Homo sapiens: one gene and its partners. The protein of the gene in region 2 interacts with the protein of the main gene of each other region in a pairwise test. Each region holds a gene or a part of one and is shown on either strand. Other genes may lie near its edges.

Region 1 (4,349 bases), on a different chromosome or scaffold from region 2:
CACAACCTTGTGAGACAGGTGCTATTATTATCCATATTTTAGAGATGAGGAAACCATGGTTTGGAGAGAAGTTAAGTAGTTTGTCAAAATCAGTGTCCAGGTTTGTTTCCAAAGTTCACGTTCTTGCGAGGATGACATTTTGCTATCAACTGAATCACTCTGACTCTCAGTATCCTCATCTGTAACATGGGGAAAATAAGAATCCCTCCGGCACACGATATGGATGGTCAGATGGGCAACATGTTCAAAAGTGCTTTGTCAATATTAAAATGCCATACAAATAAAAATTATTATATTTCTCTACTGCTTAAAATGTAGGCTTAGGGATGCTGCTGACACTGAAAAGTGCTTGGTTGCTGGGGTGAAAGTTTGGAGATATAAGGAATGTCACAACGGAAAGGTCTGTAGAGTATATCCATTCTGCTCGCCGTCTGCCTGGCATCCCTTCCTTTGGGGAGTTGCCCTTCACCATTTCATTTCATACGGTCCTAGCGGGGCTGTCAGTCACAATGACTGACTGCCCCCACCACCCACTCACACACACGCAGGGGTGGGTCCATGAGCCTGCCCTGCAAATGGAGGCACCTCACCTCCTTGGTCAAGGGAATTGGTCCAGGATACGCATGTGGCCAAGGAGAATTGGCTGTTCTGAGATTTGCTCTGTGGATGAAGCCAGGAAGATGTGGGCCGGAGCCCAGCAGTGCTATTTCAGAACTTCTAGCCTTTGTGAGGATACAACAAACACAGAGAGAAGCAGAGCCGTGACAATGATATTTGAGCTCCTGGACTCAGCTATTCCTGGAGCTTGGCTCTTGGACTTCTCAGGCTTTTTTTTTTTTTTTTTTTTTTTTTTTTTTTTTGAGACACTGTCCTGCTCTGTTTCCCAGGCTGGAGTGCAGTGGCACGATCTCAACTCACTCCAACCTCTGCCTCCTGGGTTCAAGCAATTCTCCTACCTCAGCCTCCAGAGTAGCTGGGATTACAGGCATACACCACCAGACCTGGCTAATTTTTTGTATTTTTAGTAGAGATGGGGTTTTGCCATGTTGGCCTGGCTAGTCTTGAACTCCTGGCCTCAAGTGATCTGTCCACCTCGGCCTCCCAAGTGCTGAGATTACAGGTGTGAGCCACCGCGCCTGGCCTGATGTCTCAGTTTTATGGGCTAATACATTCCATTTGGGACTATAAATTGAGTTTCTGTCACTTGCAATTATCAAGAGTTCTCAGTAATATTTTGGGAGACTTTTCCAAAGTCACTTAGCAACCCAAAGGTGCACCGGGGGCAGGAACACAAAATTCAATACCCATGTTCCTTTCAGAATAAACTGCTCTGAGGCCGGGCACAGTGGCCCATGCCTGTAATCCCAGCACTTTGGAAGGGCGAGGTAGATGGATCACTTGAGGTCAGGAGTTTGAGACCAGCCTGGCCAACATGGTGAAACCCCCTCTCTACTAAAAAATACAAAAATTAGCCAGGAATGGTGGCATGCATCTGTAATTCCAGCTACTCAGGAGGCTGAGGCAGGAGAATTGCTTGATCCCAGGAGGCAGAGGTTGCAGTGAGCTGAGATCATGTCACTGCACACCAGCCTGGGCGACAGAGCAAGCCTCTGTCTCAAGGGGAAAAAAAAAAAAAGTATATATATATATATATATATATATATATATATATAGATTTATAAGTAAATAGTAATTTGATTTATAATGAAGAGGATTAATACTAGTTTTATTAACTTCATGATGCCCCCCACATGCCGGATGCTGTCAGCCAGGTGGGAACGAGAGTGGCACGTATAGGCCTCTTACCTTCCTCTCCGCTGTCCCCCCGGTCGCCGTCGTGTCCATCTTGGCCGTCTTTGCCAGGAAAGCCCATTCGTCCCATCATTCCTGAGGGCCCTGGGGCTCCTGGGGGGCCGGGTGGGCCCTGGGGGCCAGGCAGGCTGCAGACCAGTTGAGGGGAGCCTTTCCGGAAGTCCCTGCGAGCAAAGGCGCCAAGCAGTGGGTCAGCAGCACAGGGGAGGGCACAGGCCAGGAGCACCCAGGGGATCATGGTGGTTACCTGTGGGAGGCAAGAGAGCTGTGACAGGTGAGTGTGGCCACCAAGCTGACCTGGGGCTGGTCAGAGGGGATGCACAGGAGGAGGCAGCTGGGATACACTCAGTTGGATTTCTGTCTCTTGCTCTTTCCTGCATCACATACAAGTAGATGTGATGTGGACAGAGTCGTCATATCTTGAGGACATATTTGGGTGAGTGGAGTCATTACCCAGAATACACTTCGAAGGGGTCTCGGGGGTGAGGCATTCATCATCAGACCATCATCTTCCAGAGTGGCTGAAATGGATGCAGAACTTATGACCCAGAGACTGATGACTGGGAGGAGCTGTGAATGGAGAGAAATGATCCATGGTTTCATCCAAATCTGTGGCATGAATAGAAAGTTACAGTTCTACAAGGGTAATGTTTGAATTGTAGGTGACTTTGCAACTAGTCTGCTTCTCATGGGAGACTCAGGGTTGCACATGAGGAGGGCTGAGGATTCAGTTACTGAGTGGAGGTCAACCATCACCTGAGTGACCCTGGCAGGCCGTGGTAGCAGCTCCTCCCCCAAGCGCTTCCTGTGCGCCAGGCATGTGCTAAGAGCTTTCCATTCATTACTTGATCTTCACAATACCCTTATAGAATAGATACAGGAGAAGAAGCGGAGGCTCAGAGAAGTTGAGCAATGTGTCTACATCACGCTTTTCCAACCCGGGGCCTGTGGGCCGCATGCACCCCAGGATGGCTTTGAATGCAGCCCAACACAAGTTTTGTAAACTTTCTTAAAACATCATGAGATATTTCTTGCGATTTTTTTTTAAGCTCATCACCTATCGTTAGTGTATTTTATGTGTGGCCCAAGACAATTCTTCTTCCAATGTGGCACAGGGAAGCCAAAAGATTGGACACTCCTGGTCTACATCATGCGATGAGTAGATGGCAGGGCTAAGGTTTGAACCAGGCTGTCCAGATCCAGAGCCTGTGCCCTCCTGTCCCAGGCTAGACCGTGTCCTTAAGGCTGATGGCAGCAATAGCACGATCCCACTGGAGATCAGTGTGCTATGCACCTGGAGGTATCTACTCCCTGCCCTCACTATGCATACGCAGAAACTGAGACCCAGAGCAGAAATAAGCAACTTGCCCAAGATCTCTCAACAAATCAGTTCCTTTGCTTTGTAATTAACAGCCTCTCTCTCAAGAATGAAACCAGGAGGGGGAACATCCCAGGCATGACTTCCTGCCATGGCGATTAACTATAAAATGGCAACTTGCTTTGTGACCTTAGGCAAACCCTTTTCCCTCTCTGGGCCTCAGTTTCCTCACCTGAACAACAGGGGCTGGGCTAGAGCAGTGGTTCCTAAACTTCAGTGCGCATCACACTCACCTCGAGGGCTTGTTAGCACACAGGTTGTTGGGCCTTATCCCCAAAGTTTCTGATTCATTAGTTCTGGGGTGAAGCTGGACCATTTGCATTTCTAATAAGTTTCCAAGGGATGCTGCTGATGGTGGTCCAGAGACCTTGTTTTGGGAACCACTAGAGTAGATGGTCTCTAGGGTCTCTTCTAGCTCCAATGCTGAGCCTTTCAGACTTCAATCTGTTCTCTTTCCAGATACAAAGCACTGTGGGCTTTGTAGTCCTCACTCAGCCTGTGGCTATCCAATCAGAGCGTTTAAGTATTAGGGGGATCCTCGGCAGCTGTGGTCCTGGTTGCACAGCAGGGGCATTACTCAGGCATTGACCTTTGGAACTCATTTTTCCTTCTGGGCTTTCAATCCCCTTTCCCTTCAGACTCTGCTTGGCCCCTGGCTCTTGGAGCCTGTCCAGGCTTTTCGGCTGCCTCTGGCTGTTCCCCTCAGAAACAGGCTGACCATACCTCTCCTCCTGCCCCCTCCAGGATCTTTAACCCTGGAAACAGATGCTGAGGGGAAGGCCTAGACTTGCAGAGAAAGGAAAATGTTCATTGCCCACATCCCAGCAGTGTGACAATCACAGGGCCCAAAATGGTTACTCCCAAAGAGCCTGCAAAAGGCCCCCATGGAAAAGACAGCTTTAAATGTCTGCCAGGCACAGAGACACAGAGCAGTCTAGGCCCGCCCCAGTCGTGAAACATCTAGAAATCCTCCTCCTGTCCCTGTACCTCCCCTCCCTTCAACTTGGAAACAGGTGAGCTGACAAGGGGAGCAGATGGCCTTGCCCGTTTCACACCTTCACTGGGGGAGCAGGAAGAAATCTCACCTTCGAATGGAAATTGAGGTGTGGGTTGCCTGGGAGTGGAGACTTCAACCAGGGGGAGGAGGAGCTCCCCTCAC
Region 2 (4,804 bases):
ATTTTTAGGAAATATATCCTAATGTATCCAGGGGTAAAGGGCCAATGTTCAGAACAGCAAGAAAATGTTACACACTAGTGTGCACACACGCACACACACACTGATAATGATGAAGCAACTGTGGGAAAATGTTAATTGGTGAATCTGGGTAGAGGGTATAGGGGAGTTTTCTCAACTTTTCTTTAAATGGGAAATATTTCCTAAAAACAATTTTTAAAATGGGATTGCAAGAATATCCCCTGCCACCACATGCCTACGAGGTCTGCTGAGAGGATCAAAAGGGGTGGTGGGTGCAAGCTGCCGGGCCCTGTGCCTGGCATTCTGAGGGGCCCAGGGGCCCACCTGCACGATCTCCAGCATCTCCTCCCGGCTGATGTAGCCGTTGCCGTCCAGGTCATACATGCTGAAGGCCCACATGAGCTTCTGCTCCAGGCGGCCGCGCGAGGTCACGCTCAGCGCAATGATGAACTCCCGAAAGTCTATGGTGCCATCGCTGTTGGTGTCAAAGGTGCGGAAGACGTGCTCGGCAAACTTGGAGGCGTCACCATAGGGAAAGAAGTTGGCGTAGATCTTCTTGAACTCATCCACATTGAGGATTCCTGTGGGGCAGTCCTTGAGGAAGCCCTTGTACCACTCCTGCAGCTCCAGCTCTGAGAACTCTGTGTTCTCTCGCAGGTCCTGCAACATCTCGGGCCGCAGCTTGCTGTTCTGCTTGCCCATGGCCGCCGAGCCAAGTCCCACCTGGGTCCCCAAGGGGGTCAAGGGCAGAGAGGAGTGATCAGGCCCTCCTGGCTACTAGACACTGCTCCAGATGGGCCCCCCTGCCAACAGCCATCCCTGCCTCTTGTTTGGCCCAGTGAAAGAGAGGAACTGGCCCAAGGTCACACAGCCTAGACCCAGGCATCCTGTATCTATGCCATGCTCCACACCATCTCCCTGGACCATACGCTTTCCTGGGAGAGGGAGGAAGGGAAGGGTGGTTCACATTTACTGAGGCCCTTCTAGGTGCCAGCCACTAAGCCTTCACAAATGCACACCAATTCACTTTCGCAACAGGTTGTATGGGGATTTGCCCCATTTTACAGATGAGAAGGCAGGCTTACAGACGTGAGGTGGCTGCTTCAGGTCACACAGCCATGGCATTATGAGGCTGACTCCTAGAGTTGCCCACAGAGGTGCAGAAAAACCTTCTGATCCTCCTCCGTCCTACCCACTGCCTTCTCATTGCCTCACATGTGCCTGCTCAGCACTGAATATACCCGCAGCCCAGACACTGCCCTGTTCTCCCTCTGACAGGTGTGCCCAACAAGAGGCAGCAGAGGGAGGTGTTACTGTGGGCTCCAGAGTCAGATCACCTAGGTTTGAATCCCAGCTCCTCCTCTTACCAGCTATGTGACCTTGGGCAAGTTCCTTAAACTCTCTCTGCCTTATCTTTAAAGTGGGGTAATAACAGTACTTACCTAAGAGGATTGTTTTGGGGATTAAATTAGTTAATATGTGTGAAGCACTTAGAACCATGGCTGCATAGATAAGTGCTACATAAATGTTAAATAAATAAAAATGACTTACATATACCCAGGTGCCACAAAACTCATGCAAAAACTGTGCAAATGAATGTATACCGATAACTGTATGCTTCATAGCTCACCAGATCCACACCCTGGATCCCATGCCACTCACGTACCAGCCCACGCCCACCCATGGGTCAGCATGCCTCCACACATGACGACATTCCCTCTGCTCCACAACTCACACGAATCGACACATGGCACCACGCACAACTCCCATACCCTGTGCATCAAGACACACCAGCCCACGACCCCACATGTCTCACACATGCCATCACACGCCAACTCGCATGCCGACACCTCTCACATGGCCAGCTGCACGTGGGACCTTCAGGCACCCTTGCCATTTTTCTTTGTTTTCCTTCTGTTTTCCCAGGGGTGCTGCCAGGTCCCAGGAGAGGGAGCTGCAAACCTTCCCAGACCTGCTCGGGGCCCCTTTTCCAAGGAGACCCCCCACCAAGCCCATCCAAGCCTCCCCAACACTTACCCTTCATCTAGTCCTGAAAGGTCCCCTGAGTGCAGGTTAGATTGTGGAGGCTGAGTAGAAGGCAATGAAGAGGAAACAGCCAGCCAGTTCTGCACAAGGATGTAGGCGTGTGTGCAGGTGACCCCCACCCACTTAGGGCAAGGAGGGGCCTCCTTGTGCATACATGTGCATGAAGCTCTGCACACATGTGAATGGGTGTGTTGTGAGTGCATGTGCTCATGCATGATGTGTGCCGCTGGTTTTTGCATTGCATTTGCCTGCCGTGTCTTTCCATCTATGTCCCTGCATGTGCCTCAGATGTGCATGTGATCAGGTATGCACCCGTCACAGCGTGAGGGAATGAGCCCGTGTGGCCATTTGGAGGACCCGTGTGTGTCCTCGGCGGTGTGTCACATGCATGTTTCTGTAAGTTGGTGCCCCTCCTTTCTAGACCAGCCTCTTATGGCCCAGGCTAAGGACCCACCGGACAAGTGAGTGGGAAAGGGCTAAGGAAATGAGAAGGGCTGGGGCATGTCCCGCACTGCCCTCCTCAAGGTCCAAGGAACTGGGTCACCGGGGTGGGGGCAGAGAGATGCGCGGAGCAAGAGAGCTCCTCCAGTGCCCCCTGGGCCCTGCCACCCTCGGAGTTGCCCCTCCCGGTTGCAAGAAGATTCAGCTGCCCGCAAAGACCTCCAGTCCCCCATATGGGAAGAACCCCCTCAGCTCGACCTGAGAAGCCAGCCCCGGGGACCCGCTCCAAACCTCCCTCAGCTCTGTCCCCCAGCCCCCGCCTCCATCCGCTCAGCACTAGGACAGCGCCCGGCGCGTGGCCCCTCCTGGAGGGGGCGCTCCAGGGCGGTCGAACGCGGTTCCTAGGGGCCGGCCACTCGGCGGTCAGGACCCTGGAGAGCACCGCGCGCTTCCCAGTCCCCAGCGCCCCCGCCACCCGGGGCAAGGATTCCCGGGAAGCCCGGGAGCGGCGGTGTTGGGAAGCCCTGGACGTGGGCCCCCAGCTCCGGGAACCCCCTGCCCTCATCCCCCGGCCCCGGCTGGAGCTGCCCCCACTCACCCAGCGACGCGGAGACACCGACTGCGCAGGGAAGGCGGCGCTGCTGCGGCGCGCGCGGCAGGGGCGGCAGGAGGGGCGGGCGGGACTGCGAGGGAGACGCCCCGCAGCGCTCACCCGGAGCCCCTCCCCTGGGGGGGTCCCCGCCAGCCCTGGGGGCTGGGGAGCGGCGCGCTGGGCTCCGCCCCCCACCCCCGCCCCGGAGAGAAGGGGACGCCCTCAGTTCCCCGGTCCCCCTCGAGGGAGCACCCTGCCCGGGGAGGAGGATCGCGGCGCCCCTCTCCTCGGCACCTCGGCTCTGGTGGCCGGAATGGAGGGACACGGTAGTGCCAAGAGGTCTCTCTCCTGAGCCGGGGGCGATCCCAGGCCACTCCGCCCCGCTTCCTTCCCCATACCCACCTGGGCTCTGAGCCGCACGTCGCTTCGAGGGCCGAATTGGCACCCTGGGCACCCTCCCTGCTCCTGCGCCTCAACTCCCAACTAACGGAGCTGGGAGCGTGGAGCGCCCATTCCTCCAGCTACTGAGGTCTTCGGGGTAGGGGACCAGACACGCCCCCTTCCCCACCTCCACCTTGGCGAGCCGGCCCCCATGTCAAACCCACCACTCCAGACCTCACCCCGACCCCCCTCTCAGAATTAATCCCACCTCCCAACTTTGGTGTCAGCTGCTCCTCCCACTCCCCCTTCCAATCAAGGAAACCCCCTCCCTTCCTCCCTCCCCAGCCTCTGATTGTGCAGGCCATGACAGGAGGGCAGAACATCTGCCTGGGGATCCTGTGGCACCTACCCACTGCCTGCCGACCGCACAGCTCCTCTCCAGAGTCGATGACCCCTAGCCCAGCTCCTCCTGCCCCCAGCCTCAGCAACATTCTCCGCATGCTGGGCTGAGATTTTGTCCTTTTTCCATTTCTAGGGGTTGGTCCTTATTGTCCCCATGAAGAAATGGGCTCAAAGGGGTTAAGTGATTTTTCCAGTGTGTGCGCCCTCATCCATTCATTCCACAAATACATATAAAACACTAGTTCTGCGGCCAGCATTGTTCTGTCTAGATAGTGGGACTACAGGCGCAGACAATAAACAATGGACACAATATACATGTCGATATTAGACATGTGTTTTTAAACGTTGGGATTTGGGTGTGGCAGTTAGAATGGTAACTGCCATTGGGGCCATCCAGGGCCTTGGGGCCTATGACAATGACTTTAGGCTTTTTATTCCAGATGAGATGGGAAGTCCTGGGGGGCTTTGAGCAGAGTGAGAGGGTGTGACCTCCATGTGGACAGCTTCCTTGGGTTATTATGTCAAGAAGAGACTTTGAGGAGTTGGGGGCAAGGTGGGAGAAGGGGCCATTTCAGGCTGAGAGATGGCCGGGGTGGGTCTGGTTTCTGGATTTACTTCGCAGGTAAAGCCGGCAGCATTTGCCATCTGCCCAGAGGGCCCTTCCCAGCCCAGAGTTTCTTCAGCATCGGCAGCTCAGCCCCTCCTGGCACCCCAGGGCTCCGCCTCCAGGCTCCCAGACTGAGCCTCTCAAGTCCTCAGAGTCTAGCCTTAGTCCCTCCTGCTTGGAGGCAGGTGGGGAGGTCTCGGCTGGAGGAACTGAGGAGCCGGGGTGGGGTGGGGACAGCTGGGCTCTCCGGAACACCGGCTTCACTGTGTGCCTTGGCTCTGATGTTGGGACCCCCAGTGGAGGCGTGAGAGACACCA
Region 3 (4,349 bases), on a different chromosome or scaffold from region 2:
CTTGAGTGTGTGTGCGCACGTGCGCGCGCGCACACACACACACACACGACTTTACTGCTAAACATCCCTTAGGCCTTATCCCTGACCATCTAACTGTATAGGTTCTGCATTAAAGAATTTACATTAGCATAGAGATGCTGCCTCAAACTGGAGTCGCCTGTAAGTTAGAACTCATTTTCCCTTTGAGCCATTCCATATTCTTAGCACCACTGAATATTTAATAAGTTTCCACGGGGTACATGATATTCTGCCCACCTGGTTGACGGTTGCAGCACAAACACTTTTCATCTCATCTGTCCTCAGGTAGAGAATTATAGATAGTTGCTCAGAATAACAGTGAATCAAAAGCAATGCCAAAAACACAAGTTGGTGCCAGCTAAACATTCTGTAAAGTAGATACTACTAACTTTAGACAATATTTATTTTTCTATATTTTTGAGGAAGGGTCTGTCTTTGTCACTCAGGCTATAATGCAGTGGTGCAATCATAGCTCACTACAGCCTTAAACTCCTGGGCTCAAGGGATTCTCCCACCTCGGCCTCCCAAGTACCTGGAATTACAGGCATGCACCACCACGTCCAACAAAATTTTTTTTTTTTTTTTTGAGACAAGAGTCTCGCTCCGTCACCCAGGCTGGAATGCAGTGGCACGACCTCGGCTCACTGCAAGCTCCGCCTCCTGGGTTCACACCATTCTCCTGCCTCGGCCTCCTGAGTAGCTGGGACGATAGGCGCCTGCCACCACGCCCGGCTAATTTTTTGTATTTTTAGTAGAGACGGGGATTCACCGCGTTAGCCAGGATGGTCCTGATTTCCTGACTTCGTGATCCACCCACCTCGGCCTCCCAAAGTGCTGGGATTACAGGCATGAGCCACTGCACCCGGCCCCACCGAATTTTTTAAAAAAATTTTTGTAGAGACAGGGTCTCAGTTTGTTGCCCAGGCTGGTCTCAAACTCTTGGCTTCAAGTGATCCTTCTGCCTCAGCCTCCCAAAGTGCTAGGATTATAGGCATATGAGCCAACATGCCTAGCCAACTAATTTCTTTATGTAATTTTTAAAAAGGGGGCTGGGTGTGATGGCTCATGCCTGTAATCCCAGCACTTTGGGAGGTCAAGGCAGGTGCATCACCTGAGTCAAGAGTTTGAGACCAGCCTGGCCAACATGGTGCAACGTCGTCTCTACTAAAAATACAAAAATTAGCCGGGCATGGTAGTGGGCACCTGTAATCCCAGTTACTAAGGAGGCTGAGGCAGGAGGAGAATCGCTTGAACCCAGAAGGTAGAGGTTCCAGTGAGCCGAGATCATGCCACTGCACTCCAGACTGGGCGACAGAGTGACACTCCATCTCAAAAAAAAATAAAAAATAAATAAAAGGTACCATATGGTGTTACTTAGGGGAAATAAAAGGCAGGGTTGAATCTTCTAGTACTGGTGGTGATGCTCTGTCAGAAGTCATGGTTAAAGCATCTGCACTTCCACACCCACACCGACGCCCACCCTTATGCCTAGGTTGAAAGATTTCTAATGGTAGTTACTACCATAAAAACCTTAAAAAATTATGACTTGCTTCATCCTGTGGATTTAATACTAATCTTGAAGGATAATAAACAGAAGCCAAGGCTACCTGTAAAATAAAATGAACCAAACAAAATGTCAAAGCAGAGAAGTGAACAGGTAATTTACAAATGAGAGACAGCATCTATGTCCAGCCAAATTCTAATTCTCCATTTAAAGTTCACTAAGAAAATATTCAGGCCAAGCACAGTAATTCACTGAGGAAGGCCAAGGTGGGAGGATTGCTTGAGGCCAGGAATTCATGACCAACCTGGGCAACATAGCAAGACCCCATCTCCATAAAAAATAAGGCTGGGTGCGGTGGCTCACACATGTAATCCCAACACTTTGGGAGGCCATGTCAGGTGGATCACGAGGTCAGGAGATCAAGACCATCCTGGCTAACACGGTGAAGCCCCGTCTCTACTAAAAAATACAAAAAATTAGCCAGGCGTGGTGGCAGGCGCCTGTAGTCCCAGCTACTCAAAAGGCTGAGGCAGGACAATGGCATGAACCTGGAAGGCGGAGCTTGCAGTGAGCTGAGATCACGCCACTGCACTCCAGCCTGGGCGACAAGGCAAGACTCTGTCTCAAAAAAAAAAAAAAAATTAGCGGGATGTGGTGGCATGTGCCTGCAGTCCTAGATGCTCAGGAGGCTGAGGTAGGAGTGCTTGAACCCAGGAGTTCAAAGTTACAGTGAGCTATGACTGCACCACTGCACTCCAGCTTGGCCACAGAGCAAGATCCTATCTGTAAAAAATAAATAAATAGATAGATAAATAATTTTTAAAAGGGAATATTCAAAGGTTATCCACTGATTAACTCTTAGTGTTATGCACCTTTCAGTAAACATTGCATTAGACCAAAAAGGTAGCACTTTAAAGAAAGTGGCTATTTTCCTCCATCTTCCTGGCAACAATATTTAATGACCCATCCAATATATTCAATTAGTACCCAATTCAAATGAGCTTTAGTTATTACTGGAGTCAAACATATCACTTGGGACTTGACCTTCTTCATTATATAAGCAAAGTTTAAAATGTCAATAAGGAAAAGGTCCCAAAACTTTAAGGTGTTAAGCTATGTTCTGGCTGCTAAACATTTACAACATAACCAAGTTGGCTAAAAATAATCTTGCCCTAGAAATTCCCCTATAGAGAAATGCATGATAATAATTAGGTAATAAAGATCATTTTCATTCAGTTTCTAGTCCCACACCACCAGAAAATACCACAAATATTGATCTGAAGAAAATAATCTTAAATATATATAAATTTACGGCCAAACCTCCTGAAGAAAATGATGAAAGTTTTCATCATGGGCAATATGGGCAAATATGAGCATAAGTACAATACAAAGATTTGCTTTAAGATCCCTGCATTTTAGTACTTGGTTCTCACCTCAAAAACACCTAGGATATGAAATATACAATCTGTGAGACACACAAAGTCATGTTTCCCATAGCTACCCCATAACCCAGTATTCCAAAGACAAGGTTCATATTAAACACGCTTTAACAAGGGACTCATTTTAAATACTGCTCTCTTTGTAAAAGCAGAAGCTTATTACCATTGGATTTGAATCTGCTATGAGATCCCGTAGAGAATCCAGAAATCCCTGATCTTCCACCATTTGGGCATTGATATCATGGAGTTTTGCCACGCAGACTGCTGCTGTTTTCCGAACATAGGGATCCTCATCCTTCAAGCACTTGCGGAGCGGCTCACAGAGATATTCTGTAATTTTGTCTACCCGGATGCACCCCATGGTTCTGACTGCCAAGGCTCGAATCAAAGGATTAGGATCTTCACAGTCCTGCAGAAAACAATCACCAACAACTGTAGGTATACATGGTGGCTAAAAGTAAACAGTCCAGTTTATGTAAGCTGCAAAAGAATTACCTCATTAATTTAAGCTTCCAGATACATTCTACATGAGCTCCAATCTTCCATGCTATTCCTTTCCTAAGTACAAATCTTAGCTGCCCTATTTAAGAGTTTAGGTGAAGAAGTCATTTAACTGTTTTAAATACAAAATGAGAAACAGCTCAGCAGGATTCACTCTAGTGCCAGGCAGAGGTTTAGGGAGTTCGTACCATCCCACAGCCATTAGGATCTACCCTAAAAACAGGAAAAGCTTTTGGGCTTGTATTCCGGCACAGGAAAAAAAAAAAAAAAAAAAAGAGGAGCTGTAAAGACCGTGCCCTACTCCACAGTGAGTTCCTAAACATCAAATAGAAAAGAGAGCTAGATTTCTGTGGCCTGCAGCCAAGAAAACAAAGGGGAGCACAGGAGCTGGTCTGGGCTTGAAATAAGTACCTGGAGTTAAGCAGCAGAGAAGGCCCTCTGAGCTCTTGGCTAACATACATTCTCTTTTACTAGCAAGTGCTTCCAAATATAGTAAATAGAATATGGAGAAAGAACACTCTTTTAAACTGCCTTACACTAAAAAAATGTCTTTAAGCCCATGTAAATCTATGCACAACTCTAACTTCCAAAAAATGTAAACTAAATTCTTCCCAATGATATATTCCCTCTATGAACCACCAGTCATGGAGAACAAACTGTTACGTTCTGACTCTATAATGTAGCTAAACACAGGAAAAGAACAAAAAGTTCATGAGAAAGAAGAAAGCATATTGCTTATTTTTCAAAACATTTTAAATAGAAGCTAATTTTAGAAATGCTGTCTGTTTTTTTTAAATGTACACTAAGTTCCAAACAGAGAAAAAACAACTATTAAAAAAATATTAGGCTGGACATGGTGGCTCACGCCTGTAATCCCAGCACTTTGA
Region 4 (5,089 bases), on a different chromosome or scaffold from region 2:
TGGAAGTAGAAGTCTGTGATGGGGGCATTCCAGCCACCATTCTCGGGAAGCTGGGTGAGTCTGACAGGCTGATCGGCTTCAGGCACCGTGCACAGGAACCAGCCCGGGTAGGCAGCCGACTCGAAGCTGGAGGTGAGCCCCATGTCCCGCCGGTAGAAGGTGAAGCTCTTGGATTCCTTGGCACCAAGATAGAGCTCCATGATGTTCACTGGCTGCCGGCAGAGGAGGGGAGGTCAGGTGAGGGCAGAAGCAGGGGCAGAGGGAGGGCTGGGCAGGATCCTTAGGGAGGAGGCAAAGCTGCCATCAACAGAATCCTGCTAGGGTGTCCCACAGCACCAGGGCTGTGGGCTGCCCGGCTTCAGTAGGCTCAGCATCTGTGGCTGAGTCCCCAGTGAGGATGCCCCAAGTCTCACCTCTAGTGTTAGAGTCGGCTCCTGCCCCACCCCACATGACAGGCACTGGCTTCCACCCTGGACACCCAGGATGACGGGGGACAGGCTGGCATCCAGCCACCGATTGGGGACCACGCTGATCTCTTCACCTGTGGGAAAGAGGCCAGATGCAGGGCCCTGGATGCCTTTCCCTCCTTCTTCCCCTGTCCTGGGCTCTAGGGCACAGGACTGCTGTAAGACGGCCTGCCCCCAGGCTGGGCAGAAGGGAGGCTTCTCAGCAGCTGTCATGACATGGCTTCTCCTGTCCACTGGCTCAGAGTGGACATCAAGGCATGGAAGCACATTGTACCACCTCCACTCCACCCTCTAGTTCAGGGTCAAATCTTCAAGCCTCTACACCCCAAAATAGATTCAACCCCCTCCTTTAATGTCCCTTGGGTCTCAGGCCTTTTTCTGAACCCTGTCTTGATAAGCCCCCCTTTGGAATTGTTTGGACAACTTTCTACACCCTGTGATGTTGCTGAGAGCAAAAGAGGGTCTCATTCCTCTCTGTACATCCCCTCACCACCCACATACATCAGATACATACATACACAGATACATGCATGCACACATATACATATACACACACATGCTCATACCTACATACCTGCACTCACACATACATGGTTACACACAGATACATGCATGCACACATGCTCACACATATATGCCTGCATGCACACATACATACACCAGTAAGCACACACATACACATATGGCCTAGCTGAAGGATCTACCTGGCATCTGTGCTCAGCAAGGGTGCCCCAGGTGGGCAGGTGCAAACTATTTTAGAGAGGGACGTGTTGCAGTGCATGGGGCAGAGTGAGCAAGCAGGAGGTCCAACAATGCCACCTGTTCTCTGGGTCCCTCCACTCTAAGTGACTGAGGATCTTCAGAGAGCAGAGGGGACCCAGGGTGGAGAGGCAGAAACCCACTCCCATATGGGAAAAAAGGTATAGAGAATCTACGTTAGTTCTCTCCTTGGTACTTACTGGCTCCCAGGGAATGCAATGCTTGACCTAAATCTACCTGTAAGGGAATGACAAGACAAGCCTCTTGGAAAACATTCCCACTTCTGCATAGAAGCTTCAGGTGGCCCCAGAGCCTGTGTCTTCACTTTGCTGAGAGGTGTAGTATTTTATTTGCCTTTGCTTAGAGCCTGGTTTGTGCTGCCCCAATGCCTGGGCTCTGTAGGCCTATGCTAATCTGTATGACTATTCTAAGCCCTCTTCAGGCCCCCTCCCCTGAGAGTGTATAGAGACCAAGGAAAGTGGGTCATGTTTCATCACCAACCTTTAATGACCTTCCCTGCATGCAGCCCTCCAGCTAGAAGCTGGTTATTATGCAGATAAAGCACCTTCAATGCCGAGTCCTTCATTCTGAAACATCAGGAAGGGGTGAGGACTACATTAGGAGGAGGGTGGACACTCCAGCATGCCCTGGATCCAGAGAACCCCCTGATCTCAGGCATTTTGTCTCTCTTTCTTCCTACTGTGCCAGAAGTAACAGCACAGCCTTGTCTCCCAGCCCTGCTGGGCTCATGCCCTACAAGGAGGATGACCCCACAGTCTCCCACTGGAGTCTGTGGTTTGCTCCTTCACCCTATTCAACCTTTTCTGCCCCAACCCATCTCCTGCTGGAAGAGAAGCTGCACGGTGAGTCAGAGCCCTAGGTTCTTGCCCCATCTCTGCCTCCAATGCTGCTGAGTCGCAGGAGACAACTCTCTCGCCCACTCTGGGCCTGAGCCTCCCCATTGCTACACTAAGATGATGGGTTGGATAACATCCAGGCCTCTTCCACGTTAAAGCCTGATTCTTCAATTCTTCAAGATACATGTATTTCTATTTGGTCATATATTCCTTACTAAGTGAGGAGTTTCTTTAAATTTAAATTTCTTTTATTTAACTTTTCAAAGTTGTTTCTCATCTTTGAACTCAGTTGATTTCCTGGCATCCTATGAGGTGGAAGATGTATCCTAAAGTGGGTTTCTCCAAAAGTTATATGGGGGAAAAGGATGCAGTGTAAAAATTGGGTCGATGCATGGCTAAATACAATTCAACAAGTTGCCTTACTTCAGAAAACCTCAGAGTCACTCATATGCTGAGCTGGGCTGTGGTTCTCTTATGAGAGGATGTAGAAAGCAGAATTCCCTGCATTTACTTGATCAGAGAGCTCCACTGTGTAAAGCATCTCCTGGATGCCTCTGTGGGACTCCTCTAATCGAGTCCCATAGAACACATCATGGGAAGTGCTTTATTAGACTGAGAGAAAGGACCACTCTCATCCTCTGTTGTAAAGCCCAGAACACGGCAGAGTGTCTGGCTTGGTACATGCCAGTGGGTGGACAGACTGACTGATGGTAATGGTTTTTGTTTTATTATTATCCCCAAAGAGTAGCAGGGAGGCAGGGGCACAGAGTGGGTGAGCTTACATCCATTCACTGTGATGGGGGACAATGGCGGAGCTCTGAGCAGGGATCCTGGCCCCCGTTCCCACCTTGGATAGACTTGGCTGGAGCTCTAGACTGGGAGGTTCACTTATCCCCCTCAGCATCAGGGACCCCTTGTGAGATGGCCTGCCCCAGTCCTGCCCCTATTTGAAAAAGGCTGGGAAAACTCTAAGAGCAGTGAGGTGCTGGTCACAATTTCCCAGCTGCAATGGCAGCCCCTCCCTTCCTCCCTCCTGCTCAGAGCTGGACAACGGGTCTATCCAGAACTCACTTCCTCCGGAGGACACCACCAAACCAGGGCCTCATACACTCACCGGAAGCACAGCGCCCCACTCAGGACCATCTTGAGCTCCACAGGGTGTAGACTCCCCTATTTTGGAATAAACAACAGAAAATCATGGAGAGAGAGGCTGAGTTGGCTGGGGTCTGGGGAGCAAGCAGCTGCACCGAGCTCCCCAGCATGTGAACAGCCTCCACGGAGCAGATTCTGGGTCTGGGGTCAGGAGAGAGCTCCGGTACCACCAGCGCCCCAGAGCATACCTCAGAATGTTCCTTTCTCCTGGCGGGAGCTGTGGAGTCTGCCTGTTCCTCCAAGGATGCCTCAGCCTTTTAAGTAAGGCCTAGGGAGGGGCCCTGAAACTGCCAGGACCTGAGGAGGAGCAGGATTCCCAGCGTGATTTCACATCACCCTAAGTCGCCAGAAGCACTTGCTGCTCATTATCTGTCGTGGGGAGGGAAGCTTCTGGAGACAGTTTCCTTCCAGAAATATTGAAGAACTTCCTTGAGGCTTTCCAGCTCTTTGTGAGCACTAGGCTTTTGCATCTCAGGGGCTTTCAGACCCTAAGAGTCAGTGCCCATGGCAGCTCAAGGGAAGCGCGACTTTCTTTCCTCCCTGCCTCCCTCCCTTTCTTCCTTCTTTCCATCTTTCATTCACTCACTCCCTCCCTTTTCCCTTCCTTTCTTCCCTCCCTCTTTCCTTCCTTTCCTTCTTTCCCTTCCCATTTCCTCCCTTCCTCCCCTATTCCCTTTCTTCCTTACCTTTTTCACTCCTTCCTTCACTCCTTCCCTTCTCCCTCCTTCCTTCCTCTGTCTTTCCTGCCTGCCATTGCCAGGCCTACAGGAGATGTTAGAGGTGGGACTCTCCTGCTTAGGGAATGTTCAGCCTACATGTTCATTGTAGAAAAACCTGAAAATCCAGATCAGCCACAAGAAAAAATGTGAATACTTGTCTTTTCTGAGTGCATCATCAGAAAACCAATGACAACACTATTTCCTCCACACACATACACATGTAACTATAGACAGCTTTCATACAACAGATTCACAAAACCTATACTTTTTCCAACCTCATTTTTTCATGTGGCAAAATAGCAAAATATCTTTCCATACTAAATATGAATAATGACATGCTTCAATAGCTGTATAGTATTTAACTGTATCACTGTAACATTATTTATTGAAACCTATCCACTGTTATTTGTCTTTTATATATTTTTCTCTCTTTTTTTGCTATTGAAAACCATGTTGTGACAAACATCTTTGTATTAACATCTTTGCTCATGTATCTGGTTATTTCTTTAGAAAGTAAAATCTAGCTCATGCCATCTATAATTCTGTAAGTGATCTTTCTTGAATACCTAATTGATAAGATAATACTTAATTGTGAAACAGTTAATGCAGTTTAAATACCTCCATGCACTCTCTGTGATGGATCTGAAATAAAGGTAAGGGTCAGTGCACAAAAAACAATTTAATTATATCTTGAATAACACAGATAACTATTTATTAATAATTTATTGTTAAAGCATACACTTTTTTTTTAAGTTTTATTTTTCTTTTTTCTTTTATTATTATTATTATACTTTAAGTTTTAGGATACATGTGTACAATGTGCAGGTTTGTTACATATGTGTACATGTTAAAGCGTACATTTTAAAGAAATGGTATTCAGACATATGAGCCAAGAGGTCCTACAAGTGTTCAAGAATAAATAAAATATCAAGTTGTTCAAAACACAGAAAATAATCTACGATTTTCATAATGCCACTAATATGATAGACACTTTTCAGAAAAATAAAATTAATGTAGAAACTGCCTTGTACAAAATTATTAAATTACAAATTGACCAAATGGAATGACAGTAGAAATAAGATGAAATGAGACAAGCCTGGCCAACGTGGCAAAACCCCATCTCTACTGAAAACAC
Region 5 (5,117 bases), on a different chromosome or scaffold from region 2:
TCTACTCCTCTGGCTGTCTTATTTCTCCTTCGGTAATTATCTCTTCCCACTTCCTATTCCTTAGTAACACCCTCTCAATCAAATAGCAACCCTACTGCTCTGGAAGATTATCTCCCTATTTATCTGGATAAATACACGCTATTCTAAGAAATTATATTTATTTACTCATGGCTACTTTTCAACCTAGGTAAAGAGGCCCCACAACACAGGTAACATTTTCCACACTACAGCTGCATAACTCTGTTCTCTAATAATTGATGTCTTACCAGAAGAAGAAGGGATGGACCCAAGAGAGAAGTGGACACTTCTAAGAATACCCACAAATGACAAAGGTAGAATAAAAGGACACAAGGAAGGCCTAAGGAGAATGAAGGGAATGAGAGTAATATGGGGGAATTTTCTATGTAAAGGGAATTCTCTTTCCCAAATACTCTCTGTTAAGATTTCCAAGTATCTGTCTTGTGGGTACACCAGGATAGCAGAGGGAAGGGACTAATGCCACGGTGCTACTCCACCTTAACTGACCCTCCACGCTGAAGCCCCTCATCTCTATTTCAACTCTAGCATTCATTCTCCTTGCTACCAGGACAAAGGTCAAATCATACCTGGAGCTGGGAAACAAAGCCCTCTCAAATCTGAATATGTGTTTCACGAGGAGAGAGAGAGCAGCAGAGGGGACCACGAGGAAGGCAGAGATTCCCTGACCACCTCATGCCTTTGTACACCACTCGCCTTTACTCTCTGGATTAAACAGCATTAGGGAGACAAGAGAGGAAACACATGTGGTGTCTGGAGACCTGTGCCTGCCTGTTCCAGTCCCACACCCAGTCATCTCACCACACCCTTCACCTCACTTTACCTTCTCCTCCAGCACAGGAACTAGGAACTACGGAGAGAGAAGCCAAGGGAGAGGAGGAGGAGGAAACTAACGATTCCCTGCCCACCCCCACACCCAGCACCACCAACAGGTGGGCAAGCTTGCCGAGAAAACGCAGAGGGCATCCTGTGAGCAGCAAACACATCTGAGCCTGGAAAAGACGCAGAGAAGTAAAAGATCAAAGGTGAGGTAGGGGACGTGGAGGAAAGTGGGAGAGACAAAAGGAAAACAAAAAGTGGGGGATCATGAGAAGCAGAGGCAGGAAATAACAGGGCTTCAGACTTGGGTGCAGAATGGAGGTGGAGGACACAGCACAGATGGCATAAGAATTAATATTTCCTTGGTTCCTCCCAGGGAGTCCTTTCTCAACTTTGTAAGGCGTGCACAGAGGTGGCAAGGAAGCACCTTGCTCCTCTTCCTGGTTCTAAGGAAAAGGTGACCTTGAGCCAGTGGGTGTCTTTCCCAGTGCCTGCCTCTAACCCTGTGCTTTCTCCATATCCTCCTCTGGTATCTGTGTTTATTCCGCGGTTTCCCCGCGGCTGCCCCCGGGAGACCGAAGAGGTGGCTGGGGCAGGCCGAAAGCAGAGGAAAGGTTGGGCAGTGTCACCCTTGCACACCCACAGGGTAGACGGATCGAGTTTCAGCTTAAACCGAGGGGTGTGGGGGAAGGGTGTTGGGTTCAGCTAGTCCACGTGGGTGCTGTCCTCCACTTGGTGCTGAAATCTGGGCGGCCACATCCCCGGGGCGGGAGGGGGCTACATCCCCGGCTTTAGACGCGCGAGTCTCAGGTCCCGCTAATTACCTGGCGGGTGCTGCCCACCCCTGCCCTCGCGCACCTAGCGCGGTGGCAGGCGGGAAGGCGGGGCCTGGGGGAGCCCCACCCCTGGAGACTGCGGCTGGGGCCTCCCTCTCCTCCGCCCGCCCGCCTGCCACTAGCTCATTGCGCCTCTCCTGCAGTCTGATTGGCACCGGCTCCCATTCCGGCTCCAGCCTCCAATCCGACCCCCATTTCGGCTGCAGCCTCGGACCTAGCTCCGGCCCTCGGTCTATCCGGTTGCATCCTCCCTCCCTGTTCCGGATCTTATCTTGCGCCAGCGCCTACTCCAGGATCCCGTAGCCAGACCTCAAGCCATGGCTGGTCCCTTCTCCCGTCTGCTGTCCGCCCGCCCGGGACTCAGGCTCCTGGCTTTGGCCGGAGCGGGGTCTCTAGCCGCTGGGTTTCTGCTCCGACCGGAACCTGTACGAGCTGCCAGTGAACGACGGAGGCTGTATCCCCCGAGGTAACAGTGCCTGAGGCGCGGGAGGAGGCGGGGGCAGGAGGTGATGGGAACGAAGGTGCGGGTAGAAGTGAGAATCCGGGCAACAGAGAAGGGCTATAATCACGAAGGCCCTGGAGCTGGAGGGCTGTGCAGTCTGCAGACCTCAGTGGGGTGGGGGTGGGGGCCAAAACCATAAAGCAAGAACATTCCTGGGGACCTGCCAAGACCAGCTCTGGCCCTACGAGTTCTAGCTGCACTGGCTGCCCAAATCCCTAATTGTAAAGCCAGGAACTATCCTTTTCGCTCCCCTCCATCTCCTTCCCTCATTTCCTCAATTCCTCTCCTTAGGCTTTTCCCCTCCTCCATCCGTAGTGTTGTGTCATGGGAGGAAAGAACTGAGCAGATCTGAAGAAACTGAGCTGGCCAGCCAGAGGCAACTAGAACTATTAGGAAAGCATAGACTCTGAAAGTCCCTAAAGAGATTACCAAGGTTTACCCTCTTTCTAATTCCCCCTCCTCCCGCGGAGCAAAGCCAGACATGGCCAACTGGACAGCTCCCAGGTAACTGCACTAGGTCTAGGCGTCTGTGCCCTCCCTCCATGGTTACTGGGTACCCCCTCCCCAGCGCTGAGTACCCAGACCTCCGAAAGCACAACAACTGCATGGCCAGTCACCTGACCCCAGCAGTCTATGCACGGCTCTGCGACAAGACCACACCCACTGGTTGGACGCTAGATCAGTGTATCCAGACTGGCGTGGACAACCCTGGCCACCCCTTCATCAAGACTGTGGGCATGGTGGCTGGAGATGAGGAGACCTATGAGGTAGGGGGTCCCCAGAGTCTCCCTGATGATCCAATTCATCTTCCCAGTAATCCCAGCTCCTTTCCCCTAAAGACCTCTCACTTTCCCCCAAGACTCTGAGCCCCCCATACTTAAGTTTTCTGAACCAGTGAAATCAATGCACAATTGAAGTCTGGGGAGGGATTCCCTCTCCTTAACCATCTCTCCCTCTTAACTCCCCTTAGGTATTTGCTGACCTGTTTGACCCTGTGATCCAAGAGCGACACAATGGATATGACCCCCGGACAATGAAGCACACCACGGATCTAGATGCCAGTAAAGTGAGTTCAAATATCCCACTTCTGATTTGCATTGCCTGTGTACAACACTCTGTATCTCCAACCCCTTCACCTTATTTCCTGACTCATGGTCATTATACAGCTGAGCTTTTAATCTTAATGTAAGGAAAGAATCATATCTTAAGGGGCAGCATATATGGAGATGGAAGGATAGATAAGAATGACCATGACCCAAGGTGGGTGGTTTGGGGAAAGGTCTGCAATGCCCCCTTCAATTCCAGTGCTTTCCCAAAGGGCCTCTTCTTCCAATGCATGCAGGAAGAATGCACAAAGAGTCCTCTAATGCCTAAGGAAGGTCTCTCCTTTCCCAGGGGCCCTCAGTTCCCACCGTGTTTCTGTGACTTACATTCATTTCCCTTATCTCCCAGATCCGTTCTGGCTACTTTGATGAGAGGTATGTATTGTCCTCTAGAGTCAGAACTGGCCGAAGCATCCGAGGACTCAGTCTGCCTCCAGCTTGCACTCGAGCAGAGCGACGAGAGGTGGAACGTGTTGTGGTGGATGCACTGAGTGGCCTGAAGGGTGACCTGGCTGGACGTTACTATAGGCTCAGTGAGATGACAGAGGCTGAACAGCAGCAGCTTATTGATGTGAGGGCCTTAAGAGGGTGCTGGTTGGTGGGAGCAGATGGGGAAGGCTGGGCCAGATGAGACATGGGCTCTGAAAGGCCCAGGGGCCACCATGAAGATTCTTAACCCAAGTCCCGTTACTCTTCCCAGGACCACTTTCTGTTTGATAAGCCTGTGTCCCCGTTGCTGACTGCAGCAGGAATGGCTCGAGACTGGCCAGATGCTCGTGGAATTTGGTATGAAGCTGCTCATTACCTCTTTTGTCTTCATGCCCTCATAAATGCTTTTTTTCCCTCTATCTCTCCCAATTCTTGCCTTGCCTCTTGATCACTGTCCCTCTCCGGCCCTCAGGCACAACAATGAGAAGAGCTTCCTGATCTGGGTGAATGAGGAGGATCATACACGGGTGATCTCCATGGAGAAGGGTGGTAACATGAAGAGAGTGTTTGAAAGATTCTGCCGAGGCCTCAAAGAGGTTAGAGAAGATTGTGTAGGGGAGCTAGGTGGGAGGACATAAGGAAAACCAAAGAGTAGCATAAATAGATTATGTAATTTATCAACCAACCCAAGACATGTCTGATGGTAAAAAGGACTACCTAGGACTCACTCTAGGACTAAAGGTATAAACCAGCTGGGACCATACTGGGAAAACCAGGACATGTGGTCACACTAAGATTAGGAAAAGAGTGTCAGGAACCTTAGAAAGTGAAGAAGGCAGGTAATGCAAAGAAGGAATAACTGAGATGGCACGTCAGTGCCTGGGATGTGTGCAGTGGGATGGTGAGGTGTGCAGATAAGGAAAACATTCGAGCTTAGATTGATGTTGGCGGGGAGAGGTTGCTGTGTTCATGACTCTAATATAACCACCCAGTTCTGAGACAAGGTAGGCCTTGACTCTGGATTCTATCATTCTTGTTAAAGTATCGGGTCTAGGCTTTAAGTTGAGAGTTCAGAGGGAGACTGGGGAAGGTGGAGGATAGAATGGTTCGAGTTCTAGAATATGTGGCTCTAGATGAGAGGTTGAACTGAATCATCAATCCTACATGGATTGGGTCTCCGTATTCAAGTCTACATTAGAAATCCCCATAAACTCAATTCAATTCTTACTGTATGTTCTCAAACATACAGTTCTATTTTAGGTTTGCAAAGAAAAAGAGCTCCTCTTTTAGATTCTGAGAAGTTTCTACTATTTTTGGCAAGTAATAGATAACATATTCTGACTATGAGTGGGTAGGGAAGTACCTTTAAATTATATGCCTCAGTTTCCTCAT
Region 6 (4,349 bases), on a different chromosome or scaffold from region 2:
CACTGTATTATTACTTGACTTGAAAAATGAAATCATGCTTAAAACTCTGATCTTTCTCTTAAGGAGAAATGCTTTATTTGGATCTTCAAGACCCACCGCCACCAAGCCCTAACTTACTCCTTGTAATAGAAATCCTGATTTTACCCAGGCTTGCTTACTGACTTGCTTATCTACTTAAATATTCTGTCTTGGGCCTATCTGATGGCTAATGTGAAGACCCAGCTCACGCCAGCGCCAGCTGTGAGAGTGTGGGAACAGCAGTGTGATCCGGGAGCTCTCTTCTGCGTTGGCCCCTCGCTGGCTCCCTCCTGGATTCGTAGGAGCACTTTCAGGTTGAGGAGCTTAGGTCTTGGGTATTTTACATTTTGTTCTTTCCTGCAATGCCTCATTTGACATCCCAACCACTCTTTCCCTAGTATTTCTGTAGTATAGAGTACCCGTAACATTCCTTTCCACACACATTTGTTTTATAACTGAAATGTTTGCGTCTGCGCTTCCTTTCTTGAGCCAGACTCCTTCAGTGCAGATTCACTGTGTTCTATTGCTCAGTTGCTTCCACAGCTCCTGGCTCAGTGCTGCACACACAGACTCTTAGCCTCAATTTTTTGAATGAGGGAAAAGAGCATATATTTTATGATACATTTCAGAAAATCTTGTATTATAGGTAGCAGCAATTGCAGAGACAGATGAATCTGCAGAATCAGAAGGTGTAATTGATTCTCATAAACGTAGAGAAATCCTTTCACGAAGACCCTCTTATAGGTAAGTTAACCAAGTTTCCTAATGTAAAGATACTTTTTCCAAAATGGTAGAATAATTATACATCAAATCAATTCTTCCTTTATAGCTTTTCTGTTTTAAGACTTATTCATGTATCTTAGTGACTTACCTTGTTAAATTGTATTTTAGGAAAATACTGAATGAACTGTCCTCTGATGTGCCTGGTGTTCCCAAGATTGAAGAAGAGAGATCAGAGGAAGAAGGAACACCACCTAGTATTGCTACCATGGCAGTACCAACTAGCATATATCAGACTAGCACGGGGCAATACAGTATGTATGCTGCAATTCGATATGATACAGTGCTAGCTTTAAGTCTTCTCTAGTTATATTGAAGCAACTCAGGTTTTGGCATTAAATTGTTCCATTTTAAAATGCATCATTAATACCTAAACTGTATCATAGAATGAAAGTATATGTTAAAAAGTGAGATCTTTGTATTGACAGCTGTCATATAATTTTGAAAAGTAAAAATTTTGACTGCCGAATATAGAAGAAAATTTTGGGGTAAAAAGGAGAATTTTTCCTATTTACATGTTTATATTAATCTCTAGTAAAACATTGTTTTTGTTGTCTTTATGATGCATGCGAACATAAATGTCTGTATTTCATTCTTGTTGGCTTTTGTTACCCACAATTACATACTATTCTTACTAATCTGAGAGTTTTCTAAAGTATGTTTTCAATGTTTCACTACTCTCTACTCTGTTAATTTGTGCTACAGTTTTTCCTAAAAGAGAATGGAAAAATGATTTAATTTTTTAAACTGTAGCAATTGGATAGATAATTTTATTTGAAATTTTACACACTGAAAGCTCTAAATAAACAGATACATTCACATTCAGTCTTGTGCATTTTAATGGACCGTTAATTCTGTGCTTTTTGCTCTGATTAAAGCACTAGTTTTTTTCCCAAAAGAAGAGTGTTTGATACGTAAAAAGCAAGAGCTAGAAAGAAAAGAAAAAGGAGGAGAAAGGTTAGGGATATCACATATCCTAAGCTAGCCCCTTAGGTACTGGAATAATGTGATATTCCTGTCCTTTCTGAAGTATAAATTGTCCATGGAAGTTGTCTAAATCAATTTCCCATGTAATTATAATATGAAGTAAAGTGAGTTTTGTAAACTCTGCTACCCTAGGTCCTCAAAGTAATTGAACAAATATATTGACAGCAGTCATGTTGTTGAAGAGATTCATAATTTTAGTTTTCTGACTTTAAAAAGAGCTACTTAGGTACTGGAATATATGTGATATTAAATAATGTGTTTATCCAAATAAGGTATTAAGATTTTAGATATATTCTTTGTTTTTCCTTTAAAAAGTAGCAATACCAAGAAAAAAAAACTCAAGTCTTAATTTAAGTCCTGACTACTAAAACAAGCTATAATCTTTAATGTATGAGAAGACTTTATATAGTCATTATTTTTGTGGAGCTTTTTAGAGTTTTTCTTGTAGCAGTGGTAGATTTGCAGTAGTAAACTATTAAATACATTCTCTGTTGGTAATTGAGGGGAACTCCTACCATGATACCTAGCAGATCCGGGGTGTAGTGTATTCACACGTTTGACAGGGCACCCAGTAGACTTGTCCAAAGTCAGTGTTAGGAAAAGAAAATCCCCACCATCTGTAAGAAATAGACCTTGAGGTTTACATTGTCATTTTTTTATTACTTCTCTCGTTTACATGCTCTTTTGTCTGGCACACTGGGAATCTCTGGTGGGTTTTAGAACTGTAAAACTGAATATGCCAGCTGATGAGCCTCTACAGCACAGCACGCAGGTTATGAGAGTGCTGAGTGCCTCGTCCCCCCGTCCCCAGAGGGGCTGGGCAGAAGCTGCTGGCGCCTCCTGGCTGGTCAGCCCTGGCCTTGAGCAGCTCCATCCACTCACCCCAGTGGGCTGTACACATGTCATCATGTTCTGTTTGTGTAATGACAGGGAAAAGGTTGGAAGTGACTGCTGAAATGACACTAAGACTTCTCAAAGTGTTGGGAACCACTAAGATGCTGTCATCGTAACATTTCTCTGGCATATGCTAATGCTACTTAGGACTTCTGATAGAAGCAGTGATTCCTTTACAAGTTGATAGGGAAGCAGATGCTGTAGGGTTAACTTGTCTAGATTATTAGCTGAAAATTTGAAATTGTGAAAATGTATGGGGTTGAAGCTGGAGAGGATGTGGAAGGAACCATCTTTGTGCCATTTGCAAACTCAATGATCAGAGCAAGAAGCTTTATTAAATTCACATCTCAGGTTTTAGTCTTTGAAGTGGGAATAATACTAAATTGCCAAACTCTGGGGTTCCTGTGAAGACAAAGGAGATAATGGGTAAAAGTAGGGGGAAAAAGACATGCTACTATTGGCATGAAACAGAGAAATTAAGTTAGGTGTACCATTGTCTCATTCATGTTCATTGAACTTTCCCTCCAGCCAGCCCCAATGGCTTCATTCCCTGTGTCCTTGGTACCTGCTCACAGCAGGGGGCTGGCCTTAAACCTCACTCTGTGTGTCTGTGGGGGGGATGAGAGGAGCAGAGTCAGGAATTTTGGTTGAGAACTAGAAAACTGCATCTGTAGAAATTAGATCTTAGGCCAGGTGTGATGGCTCCCACCTGTAATCCCAGCACTTTGGGAGGTCTAGGCAATGAGGGTTGCTTGAGGCCAGGACTTTGAGACCAGTCTGGGCAATAGAGTGAGACCCTGTCTCTACAAAAGAATTTTAAAAATTAGCAGGGTGTGGTGGTATGCGCTCATCCCAGCTACTCAGGAGGCTGAGGTGGGAGGATTCTCTGAGCCCAGGAGTTTGAGGCTGCAGTGAGTTATGATTGCACCACTGCACTGTCCAACCTGGGCAGCAGAGTGAGACTCTGTCTCAAAACAACAAACAAAAAAAACACATCTGTCTATTTGCCACATAAGAGGTCATGGACTATTTCTTACTTTGGTTTCTTAATTTGAGTCTATACAGTATGATCCTAGAAATTATTCTGATGAGAAGTTATAGTTCTGTATGTACAGTCTGCAGGTAAAAATTGCCATTTGTTCACACAATGTGAATTTCTTTTGTTAAAAATGCATTTTGGGGACATTTAGTGAAATATATGTAGATAATTCTTTGAGAAGTGAATACTAACAACATTCAAACTTTTTAGAAGACGTTTACTTTAATTGGAGGGTAAACATACTTACACACACAACATCCATTTTTATTGATCTTATTTTTTATAGAACTAACTTAGCAGATATTAATGCTTTAATGTTGTAGCAGAATGTCTAGAAATGGAAACAATTGCCAGTTTCCTTTGGTTTTTGAATAGAGGAACGTATTTTATTAGAATTTCTGGAGATTTTCCTATTTTTTTCCTTCCCTTTGAGCTGTAAATTTTTTTTAATGCTCTTTCATAACCTTTTATTATAAAAAAAAATTTTAGGTTTAATTGTTCAGCTTTTATCCATGGATGGCTTTCTCCCAAACTTTGCTTTTATTTCTTTTTTTCCAATATTTTATTAGTTATTTTTAATTTGGAATAATGAGTTAGCTGGTGTTTAAAAGAACTAAATGTGTATCAAAGT

What was found.
Region 1: the proteins of HPCA (region 2) and C1QTNF2 interact in binary tests that used the Homo sapiens proteins (3 or more experiments, as listed by UniProt).
Region 3: the proteins of HPCA (region 2) and AP2B1 interact in a two-hybrid assay, tested with the Homo sapiens proteins (one study listed by BioGRID).
Region 4: the proteins of HPCA (region 2) and IL36RN interact in binary tests that used the Homo sapiens proteins (3 or more experiments, as listed by UniProt).
Region 5: the proteins of HPCA (region 2) and CKMT1A interact in binary tests that used the Homo sapiens proteins (3 or more experiments, as listed by UniProt).
Region 6: the proteins of HPCA (region 2) and CREM interact in binary tests that used the Homo sapiens proteins (3 or more experiments, as listed by UniProt).

Annotation. Positions count from the first base shown.
Region 1 is NC_000005.10:160,352,962-160,357,310, forward strand, and holds part of C1QTNF2 (complement C1q tumor necrosis factor-related protein 2 isoform 1 precursor), read right to left. Parts: intron 2,383-4,349; exon of another isoform or gene 2,311-2,382; coding exon of another isoform or gene 2,266-2,310; intron 2,060-2,265; coding exon of another isoform or gene 2,051-2,059; coding exon 1,807-2,050; intron 1-1,806. UniProt on the Homo sapiens protein: Involved in the regulation of lipid metabolism in adipose tissue and liver.
Region 2 is NC_000001.11:32,884,815-32,889,618, reverse strand, and holds the start of HPCA (neuron-specific calcium-binding protein hippocalcin), read right to left. Parts: upstream 3,129-4,804; 5' UTR 3,104-3,128; intron 2,122-3,103; exon of another isoform or gene 2,056-2,121; intron 742-2,055; 5' UTR 721-741; coding exon 343-720; intron 1-342. UniProt on the Homo sapiens protein: Calcium-binding protein that may play a role in the regulation of voltage-dependent calcium channels. May also play a role in cyclic-nucleotide-mediated signaling through the regulation of adenylate and guanylate cyclases.
Region 3 is NC_000017.11:35,607,163-35,611,511, reverse strand, and holds part of AP2B1 (AP-2 complex subunit beta), read right to left. Parts: intron 3,371-4,349; coding exon 3,125-3,370; intron 1-3,124. UniProt on the Homo sapiens protein: Component of the adaptor protein complex 2 (AP-2). Adaptor protein complexes function in protein transport via transport vesicles in different membrane traffic pathways.
Region 4 is NC_000002.12:113,057,576-113,062,664, reverse strand, and holds the start of IL36RN (interleukin-36 receptor antagonist protein), read right to left. Parts: upstream 3,468-5,089; 5' UTR 3,424-3,467; intron 3,254-3,423; 5' UTR 3,227-3,253; coding exon 3,198-3,226; intron 1,814-3,197; coding exon 1,728-1,813; intron 542-1,727; coding exon 414-541; intron 213-413; coding exon 1-212. UniProt on the Homo sapiens protein: Inhibits the activity of interleukin-36 (IL36A,IL36B and IL36G) by binding to receptor IL1RL2 and preventing its association with the coreceptor IL1RAP for signaling.
Region 5 is NC_000015.10:43,692,043-43,697,159, forward strand, and holds the start of CKMT1A (creatine kinase U-type, mitochondrial isoform 1 precursor), read left to right. Parts: upstream 1-1,816; 5' UTR 1,817-2,008; coding exon 2,009-2,157; intron 2,158-2,484; exon of another isoform or gene 2,485-2,668; coding exon of another isoform or gene 2,669-2,761; coding exon 2,762-2,960; intron 2,961-3,163; coding exon 3,164-3,259; intron 3,260-3,645; coding exon 3,646-3,867; exon of another isoform or gene 3,868-3,868; intron 3,869-3,996; coding exon 3,997-4,082; exon of another isoform or gene 4,083-4,086; intron 4,087-4,197; coding exon 4,198-4,321; intron 4,322-5,117. UniProt on the Homo sapiens protein: Reversibly catalyzes the transfer of phosphate between ATP and various phosphogens (e.g. creatine phosphate).
Region 6 is NC_000010.11:35,178,225-35,182,573, forward strand, and holds part of CREM (cAMP-responsive element modulator), read left to right. Parts: intron 1-647; exon of another isoform or gene 648-664; coding exon 665-762; intron 763-909; coding exon 910-1,052; coding exon of another isoform or gene 1,053-1,105; exon of another isoform or gene 1,106-1,623; intron 1,624-4,349.